Homo sapiens: one gene and its partners. The protein of the gene in region 1 purifies or fractionates together with the protein of each later gene. This does not show direct contact. Each region holds a gene or a part of one and is shown in the gene's direction. Other genes may lie near its edges. The genes, in order: AGL, RNPEP, FKBP1B and GLO1.

Region 1 (4,058 bases):
ACAAACCTGCAAGTTGTGCACATGTACCCTAGAACTTAAAGTATAATAAAATATATATATAAAAAAATAAAAAAAGAATAGAATAAGTGAATGCTGATGTAGGCAGAAAAGTGGGGGCTGAGATTGAATTGATAGGAATCCTTGTGTCTTTCTTTTATGTTATTTTTGTCTCTGTTTCTTTCTCCCCCACACCCCTCGTGTGTGTTTGCGCGTGCACGCACGTGCACACACGTGCACACAGCAGGATGAGAAGGGGAGGAGGTAGGAGGATACCTGTGAAATAAATATTTGTTTTATTTTCAGTGAAAAAATTATAGGCCAAAAATTAGAAAATAGTGACAGTTATAATCTCTTTGTAGATATTTGCATTTAAGGTATCGTCTTTTCTTTCTTTTAGAAAATAGGCGAGTAACCAAGTCTGATCCAAACCAACACCTTACGATTATTCAAGATCCTGAATACAGACGGTTTGGCTGTACTGTAGATATGAACATTGCACTAACGACTTTCATACCACATGAGTATGTAATGTGTTTTTTTCTGTGAAATAATAATATTACTTACAAACCTTTATGGCTAGTATGATTTTCATACTACTTATTAAAAACGCTTAATAGAAAATGAAATAAAGTAATTCACTGTAATTCTACTATTTCAGCACATGACATTTTCCCACTTTTTCTGTGTGTGGGCCATGTTTCTATATGTGTATATAAACATTTTTACAATTGGAAAACATCATCAGCCATAATTGAAATCCCGATGAATATATTTAAGGTTTCTGTGACCTTTGTTAGAAAGTTTTTAAATGTAGAATCTGTAAAGCCATTAAATATTATATCTGCATTTCTCCATCTGCTCTAGCAAGGGGCCAGCAGCAATTGAAGAATGCTGTAATTGGTTTCATAAAAGAATGGAGGAATTAAATTCAGAGAAGCATCGACTCATTAACTATCATCAGGAACAGGTTTTACTTATTTTTGAACTGCTGCTTTTCCTTGCATCTTACTACTATTTTTTTGTTGTCTTGAGGATGGTGATGATCTAACACAATTTAATGTTTTTCAGGCAGTTAATTGCCTTTTGGGAAATGTGTTTTATGAACGACTGGCTGGCCATGGTCCAAAACTAGGACCTGTCACTAGAAAGCATCCTTTAGTTACCAGGTGTTGCATTTTTGTTTTTTTTCTTATTGATGGTTGAAAACTGAAAATTGTATTTAACTTTTGAAATTAACCTAAATGTTTTCTTTAACATGTGAGTTCAGTACATTTCTTAAATTGAAATAGAAGTTTTGATTTGGACATAGGCTTAATATTAACTAATTTTGTTAGGCAAATATTTTGTTAGAGAAACTGTCATCAGTATAAACCAATTCATAGTTATTATTTAATGTTTCTGGAGGACTGCATACTTAGTAATAAATTCAATATTAATCAAATTAAGCAAGCATCTGGCTCCTTACTTTGTAAGTGACATAAAGCATAGGTTGGGCAACTAGAGTGCAGTAAAAGCCTTTGCATATCTTTACTTAGAGTCTTTTTTAAAAATATCTTTGCAAAGTAACATCAATGCCTCAATTATGTATTTATTTTTTTTCTTTGAGATGGAGTCTTGTTCTGTCACCCAGGCTGGAGTGCAGTGGCACGATCTCAGCTCATTGCAACCTCCGCCTCCAGGGTTCAAGCGATTCTCCTGCCTCAGCCTCCCAAGTAGCCAGGACTACAGAGGTGCACCACCATGCCCAGCTAATTTTTGTAGTTTTAGTAGAGACGGGGTTTCCCCATGTTGGCCAGGCTGGTCTCAAACTCCTGACCTCAGGTAATCCCCCTGCCTCGGCCTCCGAAAGTTCTAGGATTACAGGCATGAGCCACCATGCCCAGCTGCCTCAATGATTTTTTAAAATAATTTTATGAAGTTTTAAAAATTGTTTAAACTGTTAGCCAGATATGCTGTCATGTTAACTCCCTATTTCTCACATCCTGCTAGATTTACTCAAAAAGCCTAATGAAGATTTTTGACCTATATTGAAGTTTTTTTCCTATAAATAGCATCAAACTTATTTTATTCTATTCATTAGAAAAGAAGTTTAGTTTTAATATTGCAAATTTATATTCTCTCCAAGGAGTTTCTTTGTATGGATTTAATATTTAATTATATTTTCATAGGTATTTTACTTTCCCATTTGAAGAGATAGACTTCTCCATGGAAGAATCTATGATTCATCTGCCAAATAAAGCTTGTTTTCTGATGGCACACAATGGATGGGTAATGGGAGATGATCCTCTTCGAAACTTTGCTGAACCGGGTATGTAATTTTTAACTTCTCTGTGGATGGGGAAAGAATAGTTCATGGCAAGGTCAAAATAAAATCTGCTTTACTGATTTTCTTCCCCATTAGTCTATTGGTTTTTAAATATTTCACCATAAAGGTACCAGAGATACATACAATTTGAGAAAGAAAACATGGAGCCAACAAAAAAAGAAGTTCATCTTCTGTCCTCTCCTTTGCCTTCCTACCTTTTATCTTCTCAAACAGAATAACTTTTATGTACTGTTTTCTATATTGTGGGTCTACATAAGCTTTTATTTGGACAAAATATTATTGCATTTTTACAGACAAGTTTGAAACCACTGCTATTACAATTACATTGACATAAGAGATATTTTCACTCATTGGCCAGAGGTATTAAGAATTTCAGTGGCAATTAAACCAGAACCTAATGGTTTTAGGTCCCCCCTCACTCTTAGTGTCTTGTGTTTCTATAGCTATTTCATTACCAGGAAGAATGTTGCAGGAGCCCATTGATATATTTATTTTTTAACATTTCGAAACTAGGAGTCTATATTAGTGACATTAAAATTTATTCAGAAATCTTAATGCTTTTTTTTAAGAGTATAAATTTGGGTGTAAGTATCTCTGCCCTCTTTTTTCTAGCCATTCTAAACGAAATCAAGCCATTCTGCTGTATGCCATGGATCTAATACAACCTGTTGCCGAAAATAAGTAGGAGGGTGGAGATGGAGTTTTAAATGTTTTTGGTAGAACTATGGTTTTAAAAGGCCTATGATATTAACATTTCTGTTTTCCCTTATGATGCGACTTGGGTTTTTGAAATTGAGGACAAATTTTTAGAAGAGACTGTAAGCTAGAGTTTTTTCAGAATAGCTATGAGAAATAAATAATTATTAATTTTTTAAAACATTATCTCATACCACTTTAGATATAATTTAACCAATATATCATTTATGGCAGAAATGATCAAAGCAATTTAAAAACCAGTGTTTCCTTGAAGTAATTGTTTTCATTTTATTTCTTGAACCATTGAAAGCAATCTCTTTTCTGAACAGGTTCAGAAGTTTACCTAAGGAGAGAACTTATTTGCTGGGGAGACAGTGTTAAATTACGCTATGGGAATAAACCAGAGGACTGTCCTTATCTCTGGGCACACATGAAAAAATACACTGAAATAACTGCAACTTATTTCCAGGGAGTACGTCTTGATAACTGCCACTCAACACCTCTTCACGTAGCTGAGGTACAGAAAAACAATTTATCTACATTAAGAAAAGAAATTCAGTGTTCCTTCCTAGCTTTCCTTAAGTAAACTATGCAGGTAAATGTTTCCTTTTGCTAGTTGGACACAAGCATTGATTTGGTGGTAGTATTTATCACTATTGCATAATTAGCATAATTCTAACAATCTTTTGCAGTTGTTATGGAATACTGGGCTATAAAATATTTAACTAGCTAATTTTAAAATTTTAATTTAGGGAAGTTGATCACGTTTCTGATAATATGGAGTGCAATCATATTGGCTACTGTGAATACATAAAATGTTAATTTTTGTTATTTTTAGGTTGCTTTCAATATATTTTAGAAGTGACTGTGAAGGTGAATAGCTTATTACACATTATAGTGGTGTGTGCCTATAGTCCCAGCTACTCGGGCGGCTGAGGCAGGAGAATCACTTGAACCCAGGAGGTGGAGGTTGCAGTGAGCCGAGATCACACCACTGCACTCCAGCCTGGCGACAGAGTGAGACTCTGTCTAAAAA
Region 2 (4,058 bases), about 100 Mb from region 1:
GGTTTGCTGGTTGGCTCCCGAGCAGACAGCAGGAAAGAAGAAGCCCTTCGTGTACACCCAGGGCCAGGCTGTCCTAAACCGGGCCTTCTTCCCTTGCTTCGACACGCCTGCTGTTAAATACAAGTATTCAGCTCTTATTGAGGTAAGGAGACTAAGGTTAGGTGCACCTGCCCTTGGGATGAAGAAATGATTTCAGATCTATCAATCAGGTCACGTTTCAGTGGTAAATTATTATATCCATTCAGTGGTACTTCTGAAAAATTGCTTACTTTTAAATTCTTCCACCTACTGAAGTTGTATGTAGCCTTCCTCTAAATCCCATCAGTTGAGCACAGATTTAGTTTCTTGAAACCTTTGTGTTCTCCAAGATAGACTCCAGGCCATTATCATCACACACAGGTGGCCGGTCATGCTCTTATTCAAACTAATCAAAAGGAAACTCTCTCCAGGTAAAATCTCCTAAGCTTTCTCTGTTGTCAGGTCCCAGATGGCTTCACAGCTGTGATGAGTGCTAGCACCTGGGAGAAGAGAGGTCCAAATAAGTTCTTCTTCCAGATGTGTCAGCCCATCCCCTCCTATCTGATAGCTTTGGCCATCGGAGATCTGGTTTCGGCTGAAGTTGGACCCAGGTAGGAGACAAAGACCCCACAGGCAAGGTTGGATTGGCCTCAGAGGTGAGGAGGACTCTGACCAGTGGACCTGCTGGGGGGGTTCTTGGGCAGTCTTGGATCCTCTGTCTGAGTCCAGAGCCTTTCTGCAGCTCATGCAGCATGAGCACAGCTGGAGGAAGTGCTCTTTTTCTCCCTGCCTTTCTCACTCCCTCTCTCCAGTTCTAATCCTGCTGCCTGGAATGAGATCATCATCCCTGCTAGCAGTAGCGCTGTCCTGGGCTGCCTTACAGAGGGATGTTGGAATTTAGGCTGCAGTTTTGGGAAATGGATTTTTTTTTTTTTTTGAGATGGAGTCTTGCTGTGTTGCCCAGGCTGGACTGGAGTGCAATGGTGCGATCTTGGCTCACTGCAACCTCTGCCTCCTGGGTTCAAGCGATTCTCCTGCCCCAGCCTCCCAAGTAACTGGGACTGCAGGCATGCCCCACCACGCTCGGCTAATTTTTGTATTTTTCGTAGAGACGGGGTTTCACCATGTTGGCCAGGCTGCTCTTGAACTCCTGACCTCAGGTGATTCACCCGCCTTGGCCTCCCAAAGTGCTGGGATTACAGGCATGAGCCATCATGCCCGGCCTGGGAAATGGATCTTTATTAATATCTTTAAGTTCTAAATGCCCTTCTAGCAGCTATATCCACTTTCCTATCTTTGTACCAAATCTTCCCCATTTTCTTTTGCACGTAGTTCCTGGAAATAACAACTTTGGTATCATTTCCCTCGAAGAGGGAAGTGGACTCTCCTTCCTATCTGCAGCAGATGCATGAGTCTAAGCCTACGGTGAGAGCAATGCCTCCGTGAAGTTACATGGATCTTGTGAAGATAAAAAGGGATTTTGTAAGGTTTCCTGATAAAAGAGGTTTGACCAGGAGTATAGGTTTTTCCTGGCTCTCATATTACCTCCACCATAGCTTAGTCCCAATGTGGGAGCATCACAGGCTGGACGGTGAAGCCGTGACCTTTTCCTGGCACTGTTGCTGTTCTTTATCTCTGGCCCTGCTCCCAGTTCCTAGAGGCAGTGGTGTCCTTGACAACATTAGTTACGAGCCTCAGACTTCATAACTGGGCTCAGTGGCACTGCTGGTATCATGAGTCTTAGTTTCTGGTTATCAGTTGGAATAATAAATGGGATTCCATTGGCATCTGCTCCCAGCGCACACATTCAAAACAATACCAGTCTGGAAAGACAAAGTGCCCTCCTCTTACGAAGGGCTGTCTTCCTAATAGGCAGGGCGGGAAATAACCAAAAGGATGTCATCTTTGCAATAGACAAGCAAGTAGATAAGTAAAGGAACGTCGTTTCCAAGAATACCCTTACTAAGGTTCTACTTGTAAGAGTATGAACTATTAATGGGAAATGAGAGAACAATAGATTCTAAAGATACTGAGTGATAATGATTTCTTTTTATACTGCCTGTAATAAAATGACAACATGGTATATCGAACTAGGTGACAGAATCCACTTAACTGGTGGTAATGCCTTATTCCTTCCGTGATTAAATGGACAGTTCTTGCCTCCTGGGTCACATCGTAGGGTCTTGTGGGGGGTTATTTATTTATTATTTTTGAGATGGCGTCTTGCTCTGTTGCCCAGGCTGGAGTGCAGTGGCGCGATCTTGGCTCACCACAACCTCCGCCTCCTGGGTTCAAGTGATTCTCCTGCCTCAGCCTCCCAAGTAGCTGGGACTACAGGTGTGTGCCACCATTTCTGGCTAATTTTCATATTTTTAATAGAGACAGGGTTTCACTATGTTGGCCAGGCTAGTCTTGAACTCCTGACCTCGTGATCCATCCACCTCGGCCTCCCAAAGTGCTCGATTACAGGCATGAGCCACCACGCCGGGCCGTGGGGGTTTATTAAATCGGAGGGTCTTCTGGCAAGGTATGCCACCTATCCCAGTCCCTGTTACTGCAAGAGGAAAATCCTGGGCAGAGGGGAATTATGGGTATATCCCAGTAGGCCCTTTTATGTATAATCTCTTCTAATCCTTACACAGACTCCATGAGGATGATACTTTCTACATTTTAAAAATAAGCAAACCAAGGCTGTGGTGAGTGGCTTGTGCAGGACCACTAGTTGGCAAAACTGGAATTAAAATTCAGGTATTTCCATTGCAAATCCAGTGCTCTTTGCAATATACTACAGGTAGTGAGATTGCAGCTTGACTGAGAGCATCCTGATTTATTTTGACAGAAATGTGTGTCCTGGTGGAGGTATCTTGGATGACTGTCTTAAACCTTCTAGTTGTAACAAGCTGAAGTCCACTGGGCTGAAGGACTGTGGTAATTTTGACATCCAAGGTGGTGGTAGAACAATTCACAAAGTAATTCCTTGAAGATACTGACTGCCGTCCCATGATCTTTTTCTGTCTGGTTTCCTGTCACATCATCTTTGGCGACTTTTCTCTCCTAACACCCAGGGTTGAGGGTGGCTGCAGGGTTTCTTGTGCCTTTCTCCCTCCCTCCCTCCCTCCCTCTTTCTTTCTTTTCTTGCCTCGCTCTCTTGCCCAGGCTGGAATGCAGTGGCACAATAACAGCCCATTGAACCTCAAGCTACCAGGCTCAAGCAGTCCTCCCACTTCAGTCTCCAGAGTAGCTGGGACCACAGCTACTCTGTCACCATGCCCAGTTAATTTTATTTATTTTCTGCAGGAGCAAGGTCTTGCTATGTTGTCCAGGCTGATCTTGAACTCCTGGGCTCAAGAGATCCTCCCACCTCGGCCTCCCAAAGTGTTGGGATTGCAGGCATGAGCCACAACACCAACCTTCAGGGTTTCTTGACCTCTACTCAGGGAGCCTTCTCCACTCTGTCAGCCACCCATATTCACACCCATGCTCTGGAGTCTAGAGCCTAGACATCGTCATTGTCATGAACTGTACCATATCTGAACTTTTAAGGCCCTTGAGCCCCTTGTCCTCATTCATCCTGACTCTGCTAACCTTCCAGCTCTCTGACGGCCTCTCTCCCACTATATTCCACCATGTCTCCTCCTTGAGCTCATGGCAGCCTCCCTTCCGGCAAGCCACTCATTTCTCCTGGGCAGTCAAGACCCTCCTGACTGGGCTTCCCTCCCTGGCCCAAGTGTGTGGTTGGTTACCTCTTACCAACACCCCAAAGCCCCTTGCCCACTTCCCGCTGCTATAATGTCCCAGTCCCTTGTTATACAATTCCTTTTCTCTACTTCTATAAGTGGGTATTTGGGAGATGTAGAAAATAGTGAAACTACACAGTAATAACCACTACACCTTTCTCAATTCTTCGTGAAAAGTTGGAATTAAAGGAAAGTTGAAATAGACATGTGTGGGGTTTTCCAGAAAAATGTAACAGATGTACAGTCTTCAACTGCAGGTGTGCTTTCAAGGTTGTTCAACAGTCCTCTTATTTACCTTTCCAT
Region 3 (4,058 bases), on another chromosome or scaffold:
TCCTATTGCACTTAGTATTAAATCCGGCTCTTCAAGCCCTGCATGATCCATGTCCTTCCCACCTCTCTCCTCCCTCCCTTCTTTCCAGCACCTAGCCTCCTTGCTCACTGCAAATGTGTTGATTCTGTGCACTTGTTACTCCTTTCCCAAGTGCTATTTCCCAGTATTTTGCTCATCCTTCAAGTCCCAGCTCCAGGGGGCACCTTCTCCAAGAGGCCATCCTGGACCACTCTGTCTGAAATGGCCTGTCCCACTGCATCTCCCTTTAATACATCATTGTGTGTATTTTCTTTAGAGTATTCATCATAATCCATAATCATTTTGTATATTTAAGTATTGTCTCTGTCCATTAGAATATAAACTCCAGGGCGGGTTTGGTGGCTCATGCCTATAATCTCAGCACTTTGGGAGGTTGAGGTGGGAGAATCTCTTGAGCTCAGGAGTTCAAGGCCAACCTGGACAACATGTTAAGACCCTGTCTCTACAAATTTTTTTTAAAAAAATTAGCTGGGCATGGCAGCATGCACTTGCAGTACTAGCTACTCAGAAGGCAGAGGAAGAAAGATTGCTTGAGCCCAGGAAAGGTCAAGGCTGCACAGAGCCGAGATCATGCTGTTGCACTCCAGCCTGGGTGACACACTGAGACCCCTACTCTTAAAAAAAAAAAGTAAACTCTAAAAGAACAGGGATAGAGATCTTGTTTGTAGTGTTCACTGCTGTATCCCTGTGATCAGGCACAGGCTTGGCACACCATAGGTACTCAGTAAATATTTGTGGTTTTGTTTTGTTTTGTTTTGTCTGTTTGTTTATTGTGACAGGGTCTTGCTCTGTCACCCAGGGTAGAGTGCAGTAGCATGAACACAGCTCACTGCAGCCTTGACCTCCTGGGCTCAAACAATCCTTCCACTTCAGCTTCTTCAGTAGCTGGGACTATAGGTATGCGGCACCACACCCAGCTAATTGAAAAGATTTTTTTTTTTTTTTTTTTTTTTTAGAGATGGGGTCTCCCTATGTTACCCAGGGTGATCTAGAACTCCTGAGCTCAAGTGATCCTCCCACCTCAGCCTCCCAAAGTGCTGAGATTACAGATGTGAGCCACCATGCCTGGCCTCTCAGCAAATATTTGTAAATTATTGTGTTTATTCATCTTTGATGGATGGATTATAATCTGCATTGTAATCTGGTATTTGTGTGTCTGTTTCCCTACCTTCCTCATGAGTTCATACATTGCTCTGCATGTCTGAAGTCTGGTCCAGGCCTGGCACATAGGAGGCCAACTGTAAATGTCTGTGGAATGGATGATGTGAAGTAAAAGGGGCAATCAAAGAAAGTGGGGGTGGGGTGGTGGGAAAGCCCAGGAGACAGCAGAATTGAGAAAATTGAGGGGGTAAAGTAAATCCAGGCCAGAGAGGTGACGTGATTCATTCTGGCTCGTACAGGGCCCAGAGCCAGAACTAGGGCCACAGGCATCTCCATGGCATGGAGGGGAATGCAGGCTGGAGCTCTTGGTCAGGATCATACTTAATGTCCCAGGTGTTTTTCCAATATCCTACTCCTTCATCTGCCCTCATGTCTCCCTGCAGGAAGGACATTCCCCAAGAAGGGCCAAACGTGTGTGGTGCACTACACAGGTAAGTCTCACCCCCTCAGCCCCCACCCAGTCCTTCCCCTCCCAAGGCAGGGCTGTCCTCTGAGCTTCTCTCCAGAGGTGCCTGCCTCTGGATCAGGGCTAAAGCCCAAGGCAGCAGGGTCTCCCTGTGACCAGCCATCCTCTACTCCTCCCAGCCAGTCTAGTGGGAATGATAAAGGAGGCTTGGAAGGCCAACTCTTTCCCTCTTCTACCAGCAAGGGCCATCCATGGTGCCAGCTTCTAGGTGAGTCAAACACCTTCAGTCCCCTTCCTTCTGTTGCAGGTATGGTGGAGCCCCTGTCCCTGCTGGGTCTGTCTGATATTTGGAAATCCCTCCTAGAGCTCCCCGCAGACTTTCTCTCCATCCTGCAGTATCATTAGAGAAGAAGAGGAGGGGAGAGGACAGACAAGTCACCCAGAGGCTCCGATGCCATTTGAGGGGTGGGGTGATGGCAGTGCTTTTCTCTGGGTACTGAGGGAGCCCAGAGCGGGACTGATCCCAGTTGGATGCTCTTTATCTGCAGGCGAGGTAGAGTGAGTTCTTCAGGACTGCTGGCAGGAAGATCATGAGCAGGTGTTTGTTCCAAGGGAGGTGAGCACCCTGCCTTGTGACCTGCTTCCTAAAGTGGCAAACTCGATGACAGCCACTTAGCAGACAGCAAGCCCAGGTTAATTCCTAGGACATACTCGGATGGGGCCATTTTTAGCAGTTCTGTGGGCCAGTGTGAAGCACAAGGTTAATTCTAGGCAGATGGTGTGGATGTTTTCAGCAGTTGTGTTGCTGGTCGCTGATGTCAGTGGGCTGGACCATGTTTTATCTCCTGGTGATGTGGCCTAATTACCATGGGTCGTCTGGGGCCTCTGACCTGTGTAATTGATTTAACAATTTTGCATGTTGTAGACAGACCAGTATTTATCAAGTTACTGAAACCACAACATCCTTTTGCAAAGTCCTTTCACAATACATACATAGGGCAGCAGCTCCTGTCTTGGGAGAGACTATGTCTTATCAAACATAGCGGGAGACTATGGGACTTTTGGTAAACTTTAAAGTTAAATATAAATATAGTAGAGAACATAATGTAAGATGTCTAGGTCAATGAATTTTTTCAAAGTGATCACATTTATGTGACTACCACCTAGAGAAGCATAGAACATACAAGCATAGAACCAGCATCCCCAAAAGTCCCCCTGATGCCTTCTCCCAGTCATTTCACCTCCCTAGAGGTAGCTATCATTGTTTTTCTTTTTTTTTTTTTTTTTGTCATTGTTGTTGTTGTTTTGAGACAGGGTCTCACTCTGTGACTCAGGCTGAGTGCAGTGGTGATCACAGCTCATTGCAGCCTCGACCTCTCGGGCTCAAGTGACCCTCCTGCTTCAGTGTCCTGACTAGCTGGGACCACAGACATGAGCCACCATGCCTGGCTAATTTTAATTTTTTGTAGAGATGAGGGTCTCACTATGTTGCCCGGGCTGGTCTCGAACGCCTGTATGCAAGTGATCCTTCCACCTTGGCCTCCTAGTGCTGGGATTACAGGTGTGAGCCACTGTGCCTGGCTGGCAACTATTACTCTGACTTTTGTCTCCATGGATTGGTTTTGCCTATTTTTGAACTTCATCTTAATGGAACCACAGCGTAGGTACTCTTTTGTGTTTGGCTTATTTCACTCACTATTATGTCTGCGAGATATATCCAGAATGGTTTATTCCTCTACAGTATTTTAACGTACAAGTATGTTGCAATTTATGTATCCTCTCTACCGTTGATGAACATTTGGGTTGTTCATAGTTTTTGTTTATTACAAACAGTGTCACTTTGATCAGTCTTGCAGGCATCTCTTAGTGTACATGTGTACAGACATATGTGCATGTTTCTGTTGGGTATATACCTGGAAGTGGGGTACCTCCTGGGCTCAGCGTTAGCAGTACTGTCTGACAGCTTTCCAAAGTCGTTGTGCCAGTTTCCACTCTAGGCAGCTGTGTAGGAGACTGCCAGTTACCCTGTGTCCTCCCCAACACTTGTTATTGTCAGGTTTTGGTTTTGTTTTGTTTTTTCTTTTTTTGAGACAGAGTCTATGTTGCCCAGGCTGGAGAGAAATGGCATGATCTTGGCTCACTGCAACCTCTGCCTCCTGGGTTCAAGCGATTCTCCTGCCTTAGCCTCCCGAGTAGCTGGGATTACAGGCGCCCGCCACCATGCCTGGCTAATTTTTGTGTTTCTAGTAGAGACGGTGTTTCACCATATTGGCCAGGCTGATCTCAAACTCCTGACCTCAGGTGATCTGCCTGCCTCGGCCTCTCAAAGTGCTGGGATTACAGGAATGAGCCACCACACCAGGCTTTGTTTTGGTTTTGGCCTACTCTGGTGAGCGTTCAGTACCATTTCATTGTGGGTTTTTTTGTTTTTTTTTTTTGAGACAAGGTCTCA
Region 4 (4,058 bases), on another chromosome or scaffold:
TCCTCATCCAATATGAACTAATATGATGAGTCCTATAACTTAAGGCAATTGAATTTATGATTAACAAACTTCCAAAGAAGATTTGTCCAGACCCAGGTGATTTCACTGGAGAATTCTGCCAAATGTAAAAGAAGAATTAACATCAATTATACACAACCCCTTCCAGAAAACTGAAGACGGGAGAACACTTCCCAATTCATTTGATAAAGCTAATATTACCCTGATACCAAAAACAAATGAAGACAGTACAAGAAAACTACAGACCAATATCTCCAATGAATATAAATGTAAAAACCCTTGACAAAATGTTAGTAAACAGAATTCAACAGTATATATAGAAAGAATTATACACCTTAACCAAGTGAGGTTTATATCTAGGATGCAAGCCTGGTTCAGTATACAAAAATCAGTCAGTATAATCCACCATATTAAGAGGGTAAAGAAGAATCACATGATCATATCAGTTGGTACAGAAAAGGCATTTGACAAAATTCAACACTCATTCATTATTTTTTTTAAGTTCAGAAAAAAATAGGAATGGGGGCATTTCTTTAACTTGATAAAGAGCTTCTCTTGAAAAGTTAGAGCTAATATTACACTCAGTGGTGATGCTTTCTCCCTAATTTTGGTAATAAGACAAGGATGTCTGCTGTTACCACTCTTATTTGACAAAGTGCTGAAAGTTCTAGACAGTGCAGTAAAGCAAGAAAAGGAAATAAGAGACATATAGGTTGGAAAGGAAGAAATCAAACTGTCCTTATTTGAAGATGACATGATTGTCTACATAGGGAATAATAAGTAATTTACAGAAAACTCCCAGAATTCATAAATGAGTTCAGCAAGGTTGCAGGGTACAAAATAAACATACAGAAATCAATCGCGTTTCTATATACTAGCAAAGAACACACAGGCACCAAAAATTAAAAAATACATTACCATTTACAATTGCCCAATAAAATGAAATACTTAGATATAAATCTAATAAACATTTACAGGACACATATGCTGAAAACAGCAATGGCGATGCAAAAAGTCATAGATCTAAATAAATGGAGAGATTTATTGTGTTCATGATTGGAAGACTCAGCACAGTAAGGATATCAATTCTCCCCAAATCAATATACATGTTTAACACACTCCTTATCAAACTTTTTTAGACAGAGACAGGGTTATTCTAGATTGAAAGGCAAAAAAACTAGAATAACAAACCATTTTGGAAAAGAATAAAGTGGGAAGAATTTTTCTACCTGATTTTAAGACTTACATAGCTACAGTAATCACTACTCTGTGGTATTGGCAGAGAGATAGAACATTGAAACAAAATAGAGAACCCCAAAATATACCCACACTAGTATGCCCAACAGCTTTTTGACAAAGATGAAAAAGCAGTTCACCAGAGGGAGGATAGCCTCAACAAATGGTGCTGAAGCAATTGGACATCCTTAGGTTAAAAATGAAGCTCTACTCAATTCTCATCCCTTATACCAAAAAAAAAAAAATCCATTTACTGGTGCTTAAAGGGGCCTTAATCCTTTGGTTCACATCCTTGCCTCACTTTTACAGTTTTGTAAGGATTGTATTGTAGGCAGGTAGGACATGCACTAGAAACATCCTTGATTGTACCTTTAAAGTTTTCTTGGCGGTTGCGGTGGCTCACACCTGTAATCCCAGCACTTTGGGAGGTCAAGGCGGGTGGACCACAAGTTCAGGAGTTTGAGATCAGCCTGGCCAATGTGGTGAAACCCTTTCTCTACTAAAAATATAAAAATTAGCTGGGCGTGGTGGCTGGTGCCTGTAGTCCCAGCTACTCAGGAGGCTGAGGCAGGAGAATCGCTTGAAGCTCGGGAGGCGGAGCTTGCAGTGAGCCAAGATTGCGCCACTGCACTCCAGCCTGGGTGACAGAGCGAGACTCCATCTTAAAAAAAAAAAAAGTTTTCTTACAGTAGTTTTCTTAATTAAATTTGGAGAATGACACTTCCCCTCCCCCCGAAAAAAACCTTATTATTTCTATTGTCCACCTTTTGATAAGGCACAGGAGCAAATCTTTGTCACCCAGTAGCCATCCCTGTAAAACCAAAGATAGTTTAGGCATAAAAGACACCTTATTTTTATTGTTCTAAATTTAAAGCATGATAAGGGAAAGACAAAATTAAGGACTATCAGGTGAGACAAGACATGAGCATAGCATAAGTCTTACTTTTTAAAACAGGAGATACATGTATTTTAAACGATATTTTAGAACCATACCAATAAAGCAATAATTTTTAGGAACTTAACTTTTTAAAACAGGAACTTTTTCTCAAGATCATGCAAGTGTTCACAAGAGGCACATGGAGTTAACAGACTATTTTGGTGATAAAAATAAAACTGTTATCTGAGCATAGAATAACTTGATCATTTTCTTAAAAATAAGCCCTTCTTGTTTTTATATCCATTTAACAATTTGTAGCAAAGGATTTATAAGCCTCTATTTTATCAATAAATTCACTAACGTTGAATATATCTTACTTTTTTTGCCACGTATAGACTTTTTAAAGTGAATTTTAATATTCTTTATGTGTATGTGTTTAGGCAGATACAGTACATAGTTCTCTTAATAATAAAGTTAAAGTCTGTAACATTAATTTTAAGATATAATTAATCTCAATAGCATATTAAGTGGTATTTGTTTTCATATGCATGTGTGTGTGTATATATATATAATGTTTTTAAAAGCTAATATACCATTTTATATATTCCCATGCCATTAGACTTAGTATACCATCTGTATATATCTCCATGCCATTTAATATACCTCGACGCAGCATTTTAAATGTTTTTCATAATATTCTTTTATGCCTGTGTCATACTATCTAACTATTCCTTTGTTAGAGGCAGTTAGTGGTTTAAAAGCAAGGACTTTGGAATCAGATTGCTTGGGCCAGAATTTTTTCTCTGCCACTTACTTTCTCAGCAGTAAAATGGGGATGATAATAATATGTATCTCATGGGCTTGTTGTGAAGATTACATGTATTAGTTTCTTTGAATCTCTTAGAACAGCATCTGGCACATAGTTATTGTGTAAGTGTTGTGATGGATGCCTTTGTACATAAATCTTTGTCAGAGTAATTATTTCCTTAGAATTTTAGAAAGAGAACATCTTGGTCAAAGAATATGAATTCTTAGGCCAAGGCAGGCGGATCACGAGGTCAAGAGATCGAGACCATCCTGGCCAACATGGTGAAACTCTGTCTCTACTAAAAATACAAAAATTAGCCGGGCTGGGTGGCGGGCGCCTGTAGTCCCAGCTACTCGGGAGGCTGAGGCAGGAGAATCGCTTGAACCCGGGAGGCGGGTTGCAGTGAGCCAAGATCTCACTGCTGCACTCTAGCCTGGAAACAGAGGGAGACTCTATCTCAAAAAAAAAGAAAAGAATATTAATTCGTGCACCACCACTACTGGCTGATTTTTTGTATTTTTAGTAGAGACGGGGTTTCACCATGTTGATCAGTCTGTTTCTCGAGCTCCTGACCTCGTGATCCGCCCGTCTCAGCCCCCCAAAGTGCTGGGATTACAGGCGTGAGCCACTGCACCTGGCCAAGAATATGAATTCTTGAGGACTCTTGATATTCCAGTTGTTTTCCAGAAAGATTGTAAGATAAGGATATGATAGACTATGGGATAGAATAGTTAAGGTTGTCTAACTTTGGCAAGTACTTGGCATGGCATCTACAACAAAAAATACATGCTGTGCCTAAGATATATGGATTTGAGTATAGCCTGTATAGTGTGAACAGAAGTAATGATAAAGTCGTTGGTAAAGTACCAATACTAATGTTGGTACTAGAAAGATGTTGAAGAAACAAAACATAAACAGGGTCACTACAAAGCAGATTTTAAAAGATAGTTTTTAGATTTTATCCTTTTTTAAAAAAACTGAGCAACAAATAATGTTGGGTGCAGCTTGGTTGGAAATATATTATCTCATAATTCCATAGGCTAGAGGTCCGACTTGGGTCTGTCCCACTGTATTGACAGGACTGTGTTCCTTACTCAGAGGCTCTGGGGAAGAATCTGC

What was found.
Region 2: the proteins of AGL (region 1) and RNPEP fractionate together in Homo sapiens (co-fractionation; one large-scale study listed by BioGRID). This does not show direct contact.
Region 3: the proteins of AGL (region 1) and FKBP1B fractionate together in Homo sapiens (co-fractionation; one large-scale study listed by BioGRID). This does not show direct contact.
Region 4: the proteins of AGL (region 1) and GLO1 fractionate together in Homo sapiens (co-fractionation; one large-scale study listed by BioGRID). This does not show direct contact.

The regions. Positions count from the first base shown.
Region 1 is NC_000001.11:99,874,290-99,878,347, forward strand, and holds part of AGL (glycogen debranching enzyme), read left to right. Parts: intron 1-397; coding exon 398-521; intron 522-864; coding exon 865-967; intron 968-1,068; coding exon 1,069-1,166; intron 1,167-2,168; coding exon 2,169-2,308; intron 2,309-3,351; coding exon 3,352-3,539; intron 3,540-4,058. UniProt on the Homo sapiens protein: Multifunctional enzyme acting as 1,4-alpha-D-glucan:1,4-alpha-D-glucan 4-alpha-D-glycosyltransferase and amylo-1,6-glucosidase in glycogen degradation.
Region 2 is NC_000001.11:201,988,903-201,992,960, forward strand, and holds part of RNPEP (aminopeptidase B), read left to right. Parts: intron 1-1; coding exon 2-142; intron 143-480; coding exon 481-629; intron 630-4,058. UniProt on the Homo sapiens protein: Exopeptidase which selectively removes arginine and/or lysine residues from the N-terminus of several peptide substrates including Arg(0)-Leu-enkephalin, Arg(0)-Met-enkephalin and Arg(-1)-Lys(0)-somatostatin-14.
Region 3 is NC_000002.12:24,052,319-24,056,376, forward strand, and holds part of FKBP1B (peptidyl-prolyl cis-trans isomerase FKBP1B), read left to right. Parts: intron 1-1,583; coding exon 1,584-1,631; intron 1,632-1,785; exon of another isoform or gene 1,786-1,874; intron 1,875-2,154; exon of another isoform or gene 2,155-2,298; intron 2,299-4,058. UniProt on the Homo sapiens protein: Has the potential to contribute to the immunosuppressive and toxic effects of FK506 and rapamycin. PPIases accelerate the folding of proteins. It catalyzes the cis-trans isomerization of proline imidic peptide bonds in oligopeptides.
Region 4 is NC_000006.12:38,689,186-38,693,243, reverse strand, and holds part of GLO1 (lactoylglutathione lyase), read left to right. Parts: intron 1-4,058. UniProt on the Homo sapiens protein: Catalyzes the conversion of hemimercaptal, formed from methylglyoxal and glutathione, to S-lactoylglutathione. Involved in the regulation of TNF-induced transcriptional activity of NF-kappa-B. Required for normal osteoclastogenesis.